Linked DNA regions of Homo sapiens. Each later gene encodes a partner of the first gene's protein in a complex. Each region holds a gene or a part of one and is shown in the gene's direction. Other genes may lie near its edges. The genes, in order: RBM15, CBLL1, WTAP and METTL14.

Evidence for each region.
Region 2: RBM15 (region 1) and CBLL1 share a complex: the UniProt entries of both Homo sapiens proteins name them as parts of the WMM complex.
Region 3: RBM15 (region 1) and WTAP share a complex: the UniProt entries of both Homo sapiens proteins name them as parts of the WMM complex.
Region 4: RBM15 (region 1) and METTL14 share a complex: the UniProt entries of both Homo sapiens proteins name them as parts of the WMM complex.

The regions. Positions count from the first base shown.
Region 1 is NC_000001.11:110,344,709-110,347,177, forward strand, and holds the end of RBM15 (RNA-binding protein 15), read left to right. Parts: intron 1-830; coding exon 831-901; 3' UTR 902-941; intron 942-1,599; coding exon of another isoform or gene 1,600-1,646; 3' UTR 1,647-1,969; downstream 1,970-2,469. UniProt on the Homo sapiens protein: RNA-binding protein that acts as a key regulator of N6-methyladenosine (m6A) methylation of RNAs, thereby regulating different processes, such as hematopoietic cell homeostasis, alternative splicing of mRNAs and X chromosome inactivation mediated by Xist RNA.
Region 2 is NC_000007.14:107,750,596-107,754,163, forward strand, and holds part of CBLL1 (E3 ubiquitin-protein ligase Hakai), read left to right. Parts: intron 1-1,949; exon of another isoform or gene 1,950-2,022; intron 2,023-2,815; coding exon 2,816-2,916; intron 2,917-3,299; coding exon 3,300-3,383; intron 3,384-3,568. UniProt on the Homo sapiens protein: E3 ubiquitin-protein ligase that mediates ubiquitination of several tyrosine-phosphorylated Src substrates, including CDH1, CTTN and DOK1. Targets CDH1 for endocytosis and degradation.
Region 3 is NC_000006.12:159,751,451-159,754,175, forward strand, and holds part of WTAP (pre-mRNA-splicing regulator WTAP), read left to right. Parts: intron 1-2,009; coding exon 2,010-2,164; intron 2,165-2,725. UniProt on the Homo sapiens protein: Associated component of the WMM complex, a complex that mediates N6-methyladenosine (m6A) methylation of RNAs, a modification that plays a role in the efficiency of mRNA splicing and RNA processing.
Region 4 is NC_000004.12:118,712,659-118,715,996, forward strand, and holds the end of METTL14 (N(6)-adenosine-methyltransferase non-catalytic subunit METTL14), read left to right. Parts: 3' UTR 1-2,772; downstream 2,773-3,338. UniProt on the Homo sapiens protein: The METTL3-METTL14 heterodimer forms a N6-methyltransferase complex that methylates adenosine residues at the N(6) position of some mRNAs and regulates the circadian clock, differentiation of embryonic stem cells and cortical neurogenesis.

The DNA.
Region 1 (2,469 bases):
CAAATGAAAGCAAAAGTCTAAAACCGGTTCTACTTCTCATTAGCCAGGATTTAATAATCCCAACGTTGAATGTTCTTTGTAACAACCAATTTTTTTCTATCTTTCTTCTTTAATTATTTTAATGTAGTTGATTTTTCTGGAACTCAGTTAAAATGAATGGAAAGAAAACTTCAGGATATCATTTAATGACTATTAAGTATTATTGGTAAAAACGTGAAGATAAGACTTTTAGATCACAGCTTCAAATTTTATGGAAAATTAAGCAAGCAATACCTAGCCAATAGTTCTGCTTAACTTTTTGGTTAAGTATTTTGTTGGGATTCCTATAAATAATTTTTCACACAAAGTTTTAAATTTCTGGTGTACTTTGACTCTCAACTGAGAGTGGATAGAGTTTTTCTTTTGAGGATTACATCTTAAAATGTCCATCGCCTGGCTGGTTATAAGCATTTGTCACCTTTTGAAGGTAAAATATACTCTGGCCCTTCTTGACTCAGTTACAGGTCATTTTAGGTCCAGTAATAAGAGTCAGGTGTTTGGTTATTGCTTTCAGAGTCAGACATTGTTTAGGTTTATTTAAAAACTATTAGCAGGTTTTCACTGACAATGCTTTTTTAAAAATAAAAAATGTAAATCCACTTTTTTAAGGCAGATTGTTCATTATGCATATACAGCTTGAACTATAGTTTGGGTCCATATAGGAACCAATCACCAAAAACTCTGGTAACAGAATTAGGAAATCCTCTTGAGAAGAGGGCCTTAATGACCTTTTATGTGAAAAAAATTTTGGAGAGAATTTCTGGACATTTTTTTTTCTGTCTCTCTCACAGGGTTTGGTTTTCAGATAGGAGTTAGGTATGAGAACAAGAAGAGAGAAAACTTGGCGCTGACCCTGTTATAGTGGTTATAGTGGTGTCCCTAAAGGGAGGAAATGATTTCAGGTAACCACAGTGAAATGTTAAGCTGAATGAAGAGTTTTATATGTATGGTTTAAACAGAGTTGAAAAGTGAGATTCCTGAAGTGTTCTTTGGCTGTTTAACAATTATTTGTATGAGTGTTTTATTAAAATAACGGCTGCTGTCTTTGGTAACATAGATGAGGGTGGATTTTTAAATGGCTTTGTATCGACCCCTTTCTACAATAATGGAGTAGTCTATGTTGCTCCATATAAATTACAGAATGAAAATAGATGGGGCAAAAGTTTGACTAAACTTTACCTTTTTATAGTTTCACTTTTTAAGTTATATTTAGAATATATTGATAGATTATAAATTGATTGTGAAACTTTTTTCTGAATTTTTTCAACATGTTTTACTCAGTTACATGAGTTAAAGGATATTTTCAGTCCTGTTATCTTCAATTGCAGTCTTTAAAAAAACCCACCCTATTGTTCTACTTGTTATATGTCTATTCATACAGTAAATTCATTTCAAGGTTTATGCCAGTGGGTATTATTGGTGCTTTTTGAAGTTGAGGTGAACCATCCAGGAAGGTCTTGTTAATGTTATGTTCATCTATAATGGCATAGGGGAAATATATATATTTTTAATATTGTAAACATTTGTACTGAATAACCTTTTTTTCCCCCCCTCCGCAAGCAAAACTGGTTGAACAGCGGATGAAGATATGGAATTCAAAGCTCTAATGGACCTTTTTGAAGAGAAGTTGTGGCTTATGTGGAGTTTACATGGGCCTCTGATGGAAGAAAGCTAATCTGTTTAGTATTTGTGCATTTTACTAAAATGGCAGCTTAAAGTTGTGTATCTGCTATTGTGATGCCAATGCCGGTGTTTTAAGTGGAAAAAAAATGACCTCTTTGATTTGTGCTGTGTACACAAGATTTCTGGAAAAGTAAAGAAAAACCCTTTTTATGGCTCACACAGCTTAAGAGTAGCTGTCTCTCAAACGTGCGCTCACAGTTGAGCTGCTTTTGTTTTATTCTAAATAAATTGTTTCTTTTGAGGAAAATGTTTTTCTGCCTGGAAGTGAATTGACGGCAAACCTTTGACCCCTTTGTTTGCAGCCGAGGGGGTGCTTGCTGCTGCTCAGATCTTGTATGTCTTGAGCAAGAAGCAGGGAGACCATCAATTTCATTTTGACTATCACGGTGTGTCAATTCTGAAGGATCACTAGTGTTACTGTTGACCCCCTTTGTTTGCAGTGAAGGGGATCATTTGCTTCTCGGTTCTCAACGTGATGAGGAAATGGTGCTGTTTGCTGGCACGCAAGAAGCCGGGGCAGGCACCCTAAGCCTCACCACAGTGCCTGAGTCGGGGGCTTTTGCTGGTTTGAAGAGCTGGAGTTGCTGAAATTTAAGTTTTGATTTATTTTGTTCACCCATCACGTTTGGCCTTAGTTTCATTTTTAATTTGAAGAAAAGTTTGAAATTGCTTTATCTTGCACTTAACATTTGCACCAAATTGCCAAAAGAAGGAGAAATGCTCCGTTTGCTTTTTAAATGTTAATGA
Region 2 (3,568 bases), on another chromosome or scaffold:
CTTGAAGATTCTATATAGTCAGATATCCGGTCTTTGCTTTTATGACTTCTGGGTTTTGTGACATTATTTGAAAGGCCTTCCCCTATTTCACCAGTATAAAAGAGTTTTTCCATCTTACCCTTGATTACAGGTTAGCAAACTATGTCTGTGGGCCAAATGTAGCCCTGTTTTTATAAACAATTTTATTGGAACACAGCTATGCTCATTCATTTAAGTATTATCTATGGGGGCTTTCACACTATAATGGTAGAGTTGAGTAATTGTGATTGAGACCATATGGTCCACAAAGCGTAAATATTTACTATTTAGCATTTCACAGAAAAAGTTCACTGATACTGCTTTAGAACATTTATGGTTATTAAGGGGAAAAAAGGTGGGGTCTGGCTTTTTTTTTTTTCCCTCGAAACATTGTCCCAACTCTTTTCCTTGCTGAATAGGGATTTTACTGTTATCATATATATGTTAAAGCAGCAGTCCCTAATCTTTTTGGCACCAGGACTGGTTTCGTGGAAGACAGTTTTTCCACAGGTGGAGAGTGATGGCAGGGTGCGGGGAGTGGTTTCGGGATGCAACTGTTGCATTAGTTAGATTCTTGTAAGGAGCACCAACCTAGATCCCTCTCTTGCACGGTTCACAATAGGGTTTGCGTTCCTATGAGAATCTAATGAGGCTGCTGATCTGACGGGAGGCGGAGGCAGAGGTCAAGTGGTAATGCTCCCTAGCCCTTCCCTCACCTCCTGCTGTGTGGCCGCATTCCTAACAGGCCAAGGGTACTGGTCCAAGGCCTGGGAGTTGGGGACCCCTGTATTAAAAGTATTTTTTTGTATTTCTGGACTTTCTGTTCTATTCCAGCAATTTGTCTGTATTTATTTTGTAGAATCAAACTGCTTTAGTTACAACATATGTTATGGTTTCTTTTATCGTAGGGTTCCTCTGCCATCTAAACAAGTATATTTCAAGTCAAAATGTTAGAAATCGTGTTAGTAATAACCTAGGGCTGCTGTTGCACTACCTCTAATTTAGGGTCACTCCTGCTTTGGCTTTGTTTAAAAAAATAGTTTTTTAAAACAACACGTTAGTGTACAAATAATTCTTTAATAGTTCAAACAATGCAGAAAAGCCAAAATCCTTTTCTCTCCTTTCCCTCTCGGATTTTGGAGTAAAATAAGTTTGTTTTTGATTGTTGTTTTCCTAGGCATCAATCAAAATATATATAGTTTAATGATGGGAGTACAGGTGGAACTACTCTGAAAAATGATAATGTGCTCCTAATTTCCTTGGCTGTTATCTCAATAATTTTCTGGTTTGAAAAATTGAGTTTCTGCCAGGTGTGGTGGCTCACGCCTGTTTTCCCAGCACTTTGGGAGGCTGAGACGGGCGGGTCATGAGGTCAGGAGATTGAGACCATCCTGGCTAACACAGTGAAACCTCGTCTCTACTAAAAATACAAAAAATTAGCTGGGTGTGGTGGCGGGTGCCTGTAGTCCCAGCTACTCGGGAGGCCGAGGCAGGAGAATGGCATGAACCTGGGAGGTGGAGCTTGCAGTGAGCGGAGATTGCGCCACTGCACTCCAACCTGGGCGACAGAGTGAGACTCTGTCTCAAAAAAAAAAAAAAAAAAGAAAAATTAATTGAGTTTCCTTATTTTGAATTTTAGATCACACCAGCTTTTCTAAGGTGTAAATGGGTGATATAGGAGCCTAGGAACACTCAGGTGTAACTTATAAGAGCATCCTGACTTTGGATTATACATTCGTATTGGCAGTAATTAAATAGCAGTACACTGAAGTGTCTATCAGCTTCAAAAACTTCTTGCATCATTGTTTGTGTGTTAATGTGAATGTGTCTCTCTGTGTGTGTGTGTGTGTGTCTGTGTCTGTGTATAGGTGCTGTAATTTAGTCATGTGGGTAAAGTTAAAACTTGTGTGCTTGGCTACTCTGTTTACCAGTTCTAGGGCCAAAAGAGTCGTGAGAAGCCTGGCTCCTTGGAGGGATATATTTGTCTGCTCAGCTTTACTTTAGGTAATTGGATTCTACCTAGAATTCCCATCAGACTGTTGATTGGTTTTCTGTTCTTTTGTAGGAGTTGAGAAGATTGCCATCAACTTTTTAATTAGGCCAGAGAAATTGAGCCCCTTTCATCTTCATATATCTTAAGTTTATTGATATTGATAAATGCATTGTAGGAAAGGATACATGAGAATACGATATGGCTCCTGTTGTTTGGGTAATTAATCAGGGAGTGGTTTTAATTGACAGGATGAAATATGAATATGTTAAAGTGTCTAAATCACTCATTTTAGGGCTAAAGAAGAGGATAACTTGTTTGCTAATAAAATCGATAGAATGCTTTATGTTTTCATTATGCTATTGGCAATACAATCAGTCTCTTAGCATACCATTTTTGTAGCTAGACTAGAATAAATGGTGATCAATATCTTAAAAATTTGTGCAACAAGCATGATCATCAGTAAAGTTTTACATTAGAAATAGTTTCATGAATTGATAAGAGCATTTGAATGGGAGTCAAGAGATCTGAGGTCTGTTCCTGGCTTTGCCACTTATCTTCTATATGTTGAGTTATGAGTCTCCATACAGTAATATTCTCAATAATGAAGTAAAAGAGTTGGACTAGATCACCAAGATCACTTCTAACTGATGTTTTAAAGTAATCTTGATTGTCTTATTCTTAGAAAAGCTTTGAAAGGCATCAGATGAGCTTTTTAGTGAAAAGGTCTATTTTGCCATGTATATGTGCTTCCAAAATGAAATTTGAGATTTGGAAAGTTAATGGGCAATACTTTTTTTTTCTCAGAAGGATTTGATTATAATGAAGAAGAACGGTATGACTGTAAAGGGGGTGAGCTGTTTGCAAATCAGCGAAGATTTCCTGGACACCTTTTTTGGGACTTTCAGGTATAATTAAAAATGAAAAATTGTATTATAACAATAAAATATTTTAAGTATTAAATACTTAAAATGTTTTATTGGAGTAATGCACAGTACATTAAGAATATTATGAACTTATAACTATGATTTTCAGCACATACAAATCATTTGTTAATACTCTATTTTCAAGAATAATTTGAAGTAATTTTCAGTAAAATCAATAACTGTTAACACTAAGAAGAAAAACTAATGGTATCACAACTAATGGTGGGGAATAAATGGAGATTATACCAAGAGGCTTCTATTTCTAATTGTTTTAACAACTTTTATAAAATATTGACCAATTCATTGTGTAGATACAATCTTTAGAATTGTGTAAGAAGGTAATTTTAATTATATCATTTCAACAGATAAACATCTTAGGTGAAAAGGATGATACACCAGTTCATTTCTGTGACAAGTGTGGATTGCCTATTAAAATCTATGGGAGAATGGTAAGTATAATTAAATATTGTTTTTGTAAGTAAGCATTTGCATAGAGGTGGGGTTCTGAAATTTAGATAGGTTTATCATTGTTTAATGACTAAGTTTGCAAAATTTTAAATAAGTATGAAATAACTAAGGGAAGTATTGGAATACTATGAATTTAATATGATTATCTTGACAAATTGTTGAATTC
Region 3 (2,725 bases), on another chromosome or scaffold:
AAGTGGAAGGAATTCCATTGTTTTTGACAATCTTGCATATCTCTCATTTTCCCATTGTTTAATTTCTAAGTGGATGTTCAGTGGAGGCTAACGCCTGAGAGTGCTGATGGGAAATGGTGGAAATCTGGAGCTACAGTAGCAGTGAACAAGAACACCAGCTAATAAAGTTATCATATCAAAGAATAAAGCCTTTACCACATGCTCACTGGTGGCTTTCACCCTCGGGCTCCTCTGAGCAGTAGTAACCCAGGTTGAACTCTTCAGGTATTTTCTGGAAGAAAGCTTAATTACAAACTTTTCCTTGAATTACATTAGGTTAGAAAACATGCAGCCAGGCACGGTGGCTCATGCCTGTAATCCCAACACTTTGGAAGGCTGAGGTAGGCAGATCACTTGAGCTTAGGAGTTTGAGACCAGCCTGGGCAACAAGGCGAAACCCCATCTCTACTAAAAATCCAAAATTAGCTGGGGGTGCTCGTGCACACCTATAGTCCCCAGGTACTCCGGAGGCTGAGGTGGGAGGATCACCTGAGCCTGGGGACGTCAAGGCTCCAGTGAGCTGAGATCACGCCACTGCACTCCAGCCTGGCAACACAGTGAGACCCCCATCTCAAAAAAAAAAAAAAAATGCTGTAGGTGAAAGAACCATGCAACACTTCAAAGATTGATAAAATATTTACAAAATGCTCTCATTTTTAAACTTATAAGGCATACTGAAGTAGTGTATCAGGCAAGTGAAAGCCTCACTAGAAGAAGGAAAGACTAGAATTTAAAAAATGTTTTAACCCATAAGGTCATCCTGGACTTACCCCAAGGACAAGAATGTCACACTGTCTTTATCCAAGTCTCAAAGGTAAATATCACAATTATTTACTTAGATCCCTTTAAAAGTGATCATTTCTTTTTTTTTCTTTTTTCATAAATAATTACAAGAACAAGCAAATAATTTCTCCTTTTATTGCTGAGGCTAAAGAAAAGCAGTAAAATTTTATTGGGAAACATTTGAGCTTTTCATTACATATTTGCAATTGCTATGTATGTGCACATAGGTTCAGTAGTATGTTGCACTAGCATTTGGAAACTATAATCTGTGGAAAGTGTGACACTCCTAGATTGGCAGATATTTGCGTGTTTGAATTGTGATACGTGACCACTGGTCTTATTTTTGTGTCAAAAGGATGATCTTTTCCAATAAAGTCTTAAGTCTTTAAAAAAAAAACCTTAACTGCTGAATGTGCCTCAATTAATATAATAGATAATATTCTTGAGAGTTATGGAAGATGGATGTACCAGAAAACTTCCCTCTCTCCTCCTCTTTTTTGAGACAGGGTCCCTGTTTCCGAAGCTGGAATGCAGTGGCATGGTCACAGCGTCAACCACTTGGGCTTAAGCAGTCCTCTCACCTCAGCCTTTCCAGAGGCTGGCACTACAAGCATGTGTGCCTGGCTACTTTTTAAAAAATTTTTTGTAGAGTTGGAGTCTATGTTGCCCATGCTGGAGGACTTCCTGTTAAGGAAAATCCTTATTAAATGTTTTTCTAGCAAGAATAAATACTCTCATTCATTTTTATTTGTAGGTACTGATTTTCATAAATATTTGTGATTGATGTTGCATGTACCTTTTCAAGAACTTTTCTGATAAAGCGCTAGATTCCTTAGTGTAATAATACTGGTATAGCCAAGGTGTGTGTTAATTAACTGGCTCTGTTTCCATTTCAAATGATAATTTGAGATGAAAATAGATGGATTTCAGAATTGATTATTGATGTAATAGAAACAAGGTGTAGCTGTTTGGGCACTTTTTGTTTAGGGTTTATTTTTACTGCTGTGTTGGCAAAATACTGAAATGCAGAAGATGGATGTGTCCCAGAAAAGAAGATGGTAATTATGGGGAAGCATCTGCTGTGATATAGTTATGTTTGTATGTGTTACATCTATCACTGTAATAATTGTAAGCAAAGACAGAGAGTTTTGTCTTCATTTTGTGATGGATGGCTCTTTCCTTTGCAGCCAAACAGGGAAAAAGTTAATGGCGAAGTGTCGAATGCTTATCCAGGAGAATCAAGAGCTTGGAAGGCAGCTGTCCCAGGGACGTATTGCACAACTTGAAGCAGAGTTGGCTTTACAGAAGAAATACAGTGAGGAGCTTAAAAGCAGTCAGGATGGTAAGGGGTTTGTTTCTTTTTGGAACGTTGTCTCAACTTTGCATTGGCTTTTTAAAACTGCCAGTCATGAATATTATAGGTTAGATTCTGTACATTGTTAACCTCTGCCCTATGATTGTATATTATTGTGAGTGAAGCATTTTTAGTTGAGTCCGCAAACAAAGCCATATAATTTTAGTTTGTTTATCCCCACCCTCCTAATTCTTTATTGTTCAAAATTTCTTACATTTTTGTTTTTAGTTGGGGGTAGGATTTGGTAAAAGATAAAAGGGTGTTGTATTACTTAACAAGATGGACAAATTTGTATTCATTGTTTGAAAGGGAGAATAAGCATTTCTCGTTAAGTGTAAATCTTAGAAACATGGGCAGTTTTCAGCGATCTGAAAGTAATAAAGTTGATTGTATCTGTGAAGGTTTTATTAGTGAATAAGAGATTTAATCTTTAAATTTGCTGAGATAAAACTTGTCAGCCTCCATCCTTTTTAGTGCAAGTGTAGCTGTATCTCTGTTTCTCTTCTTTGTAAGGTGCATTATTAATAAGGAAAATATCCAAATTCTTTG
Region 4 (3,338 bases), on another chromosome or scaffold:
TTGCTTTATGCACTAATTCCTTACTGGGGATAGAAGCTAATTATTGTGAAATAACCTAGTTTAGAAGTTAGAAGATCAGCATGTCTGAGTTTTTACAGAATTATAATTCATGGTATTCCAAACCAACTGTTGTTATTTATTTCCAGTGAGAACCATTTTCCCACTGACCTTCCTCCTTTCAGAGGATGGGGATTAGGAGGCCCAAAGTACTGATTGAGTAGGAATACTTTTTTACTCTTCTTCACTGTGGAGAAAGAAGAGGGCAGGTAGTTGATGATGTCAGGAGAACAGATTTTATGGTGTGGAATACCATACCTAAACACAAATGAATCAGATTAGACCACAGAATTGTGATGATGGCAGTCAGAATGTAATACGGTCATCATGAAACAGCACAGTGTGAGAGGTCAAGGTGTCAACCTGGGAAGTGAGAATCAAGCAGGAGTGTGGCATGGCAACCAACTCACAGATCCAGAGTTGAGAGGGATCACTACTGCAGCAGTTCTGCTCTGTTACTCTGGTAAGTAGTAGAGCCACTTTATGAGCCCTTATTTCCTATCTCCCTTATTCTGAGGCCAGGTCAGTGATATGCTATAGTTTCATTTAAGTTAATGGAGTATAAAGATGGGATACTTGGGAGCTATATTGTGCATCAGGGTGTCACAGCTGCTACTAGGAGTTACTCCTTTTCATGTCTTTTAAAATACTTTCTACCCATCTTAATTGCTAAATTATCTTTCAGTTAGTTACAGCGCTTAATTTAAAACCTGTACTGTTTTCATCCTGAATTTAGAACATAAGATTTAGCCTTTGAAGTATAGTTTCAGACTTTACTAATTTGTTTAATATAATCCTTATTAACATGACAAAATGAAAGCCCTGTTGGGACTTAGTCTAAACAGTAGTCTTTGATCTGAAAGTGTCTCATATTTTGTGATCTATTAGAAACATAAACCTTTGCTTATGCAGAAGGTCTTTCTTAGAACAATCCTGTAATCTTAGGGTTCATGTGTGACTAGCATTATCCTCTCTTTGATGTTGGGTAATAGAGGCTGAACTTTTCTTGTGTATATATAGTTAGTTTTGAGGCCATAAATCTAGGACTTCTCAAAAGATTAGAACATTTATCCAGTAAACTGACTCCATTGAAGACTTCATTTCTGGAAATACCACATTGCTTCTGCTCTCAATAACTCTATCATTTACTCGTATAAATATTGCTAGCTGTAATGCACAGAGAAAAACTACCTCATTCAATCTAGATAATTGGGACATCCTTTTCCAGTAAACCCTTTTTCCACTACTGGATAAAATATTAAAATGATCAGTTTGAGTGTATGTTAGAGTTCATGTTTCTGTAACTAAAGGTGCTAATAAACTGAAATCAGATAAGGTAGGTTTTTCCAAAAATACTTCTAAATAATTGACAACCTAGAAGTCAACAATGTAAAATGCATATGGGACTCTATATTAATAGAGAAGCAGGCCAAGAACTTTTTAATGGGATAATTGTCTTCTTTAGGCACATTGTTTGCATATTAACGACATGGAAATATTTTCACTCATTTACTTTCATCCATCTATCTGTGCTTTTTCTCACTTTGATGAGTTCTCTCAACTCCTTTCTAAGAAAAGCAGAGCAGAGCAGCATAGAGTGCGTTAGTAAATGGCCACTGACTCTTGGTCTCAGGCCATAGCAACTATAGAGAGAAGAGTGGGGCTGGAGACCTCATACCCTGGGTAAAGTGGACATCACTTGTCAGCTCCAGCTAATTGTCACCACAGAGAGAAGAGGGTAAGTCTGAGATGTTCATGTGCATTTCCCTACATTTTAGAGGTTGACAAAATAGTTTGTGACTTTTGCTTACATTTGCATTCATAGAACTAAAAAAAATTTAACTTGGCTAACAAAATACCACATGCATATTTTCTTTTTTATTTTTATTTTTTGAGACAGAGTCTCTGTTACCCAGGCTGGGGGGCAGTGATAAGATCTTGGCTCACTGCAACCTCCGCCTCCAGGGTTGAAGCGATTCTTCTGCCTCAGCCTCCTGAGTAGCTGGAATTACAGGTGCCCACCACCACACCCAGCTAATTTTAGTATTCTTAGTAGAGACAGGATTTCACCATGTTGGCCAGGCTGGTCTCAAACTCCCGACCTCAACTGATCCACCCACCCTGGCCTCCCAAAGTGTCAGGATTACAGGCGTGAGCCTCTGCAACTGGCCAACATGCATATTTAAATTATGCATGCATTGTAGCTGTATACTGTGTGACCACATTTACTTAAAAAAGAGGAAAAAAGGTTACTTGCTTGAGACAGGAAACTATCACCTTTGAAAGCATATTAAGTAGTTGGCTTACTTTGGAACACACAGTAGACTGAAAATGTGAACTAATACTTTAAAATTGCCGTATAATGATGTCATTGCAAGCCATTCATCTATCCAATGGGGGAAAATGTGGAGGTCTAGGCTTGTGTTGTCACAAAATACACCTTTTAGATAATCCTTACCTGTACAGATTTTTATAACTGTTGTTATCATAAGAGAATGGCTACATCATTATCCTGCCTTTTCTGGGTGTTTATTTTGTTGTTTTTGAAAGTGGACAAAACCTCAAAGCACAATTTTGTTCTGATATATCCAGTTTAGTAGTTTATGCTGGTTAAATGATCAAAGTAATTGCTTAAATGTCTTGTGGAATTAGCTGTCACTTTATAGTTTATGTATTGTGGTGGGTACCTTAATAATAAAAAGATTTTTAATGTAATAATATTGCTCATAATTCATGAAAGCTACATGGGTAGTTGGGTTATTGTTTTGTCTAAGAAGCTAGGTTTATAGCATGGTAAATAAAAACTCAAGATTATAGCTTTCTTTTCTACTATTGAGCTCAATTAAAGGATAATGCATGATTAAAAATATATTTATAAAAATAATTCCAAAGCAAAATTTAGAAAAATGTAAACACAAATGTAAGCCCATCAGCCAACTACCTCCTTGAATCTTAACTCCATATCCTTCCTCAGATGGTGCTGACAAGATAGTGGATCAGGATGGCACCAGCACCTCTTTGGGGACCTTTCCCAGTTCTGATTGCTTTCCTTTACCCTGATTCAAACAGAAAGCTTGCCTTTTCATCTGATACCTGCATTTGTCTACTCACCTAGTCCTGAGCTTTTACACCACTGCTTGGGCTCTTATGACTTAGTTTTTGTTGTTAGCTTTATAAGGGCAGTGGTATGCTTTCTCAGCTTCTAATGTATGGCATATAATAAGTGCTCAATAAATAGTCCCTTTCCCTTGCTGCTTGCTTAATAATTGGAAATAACTCCC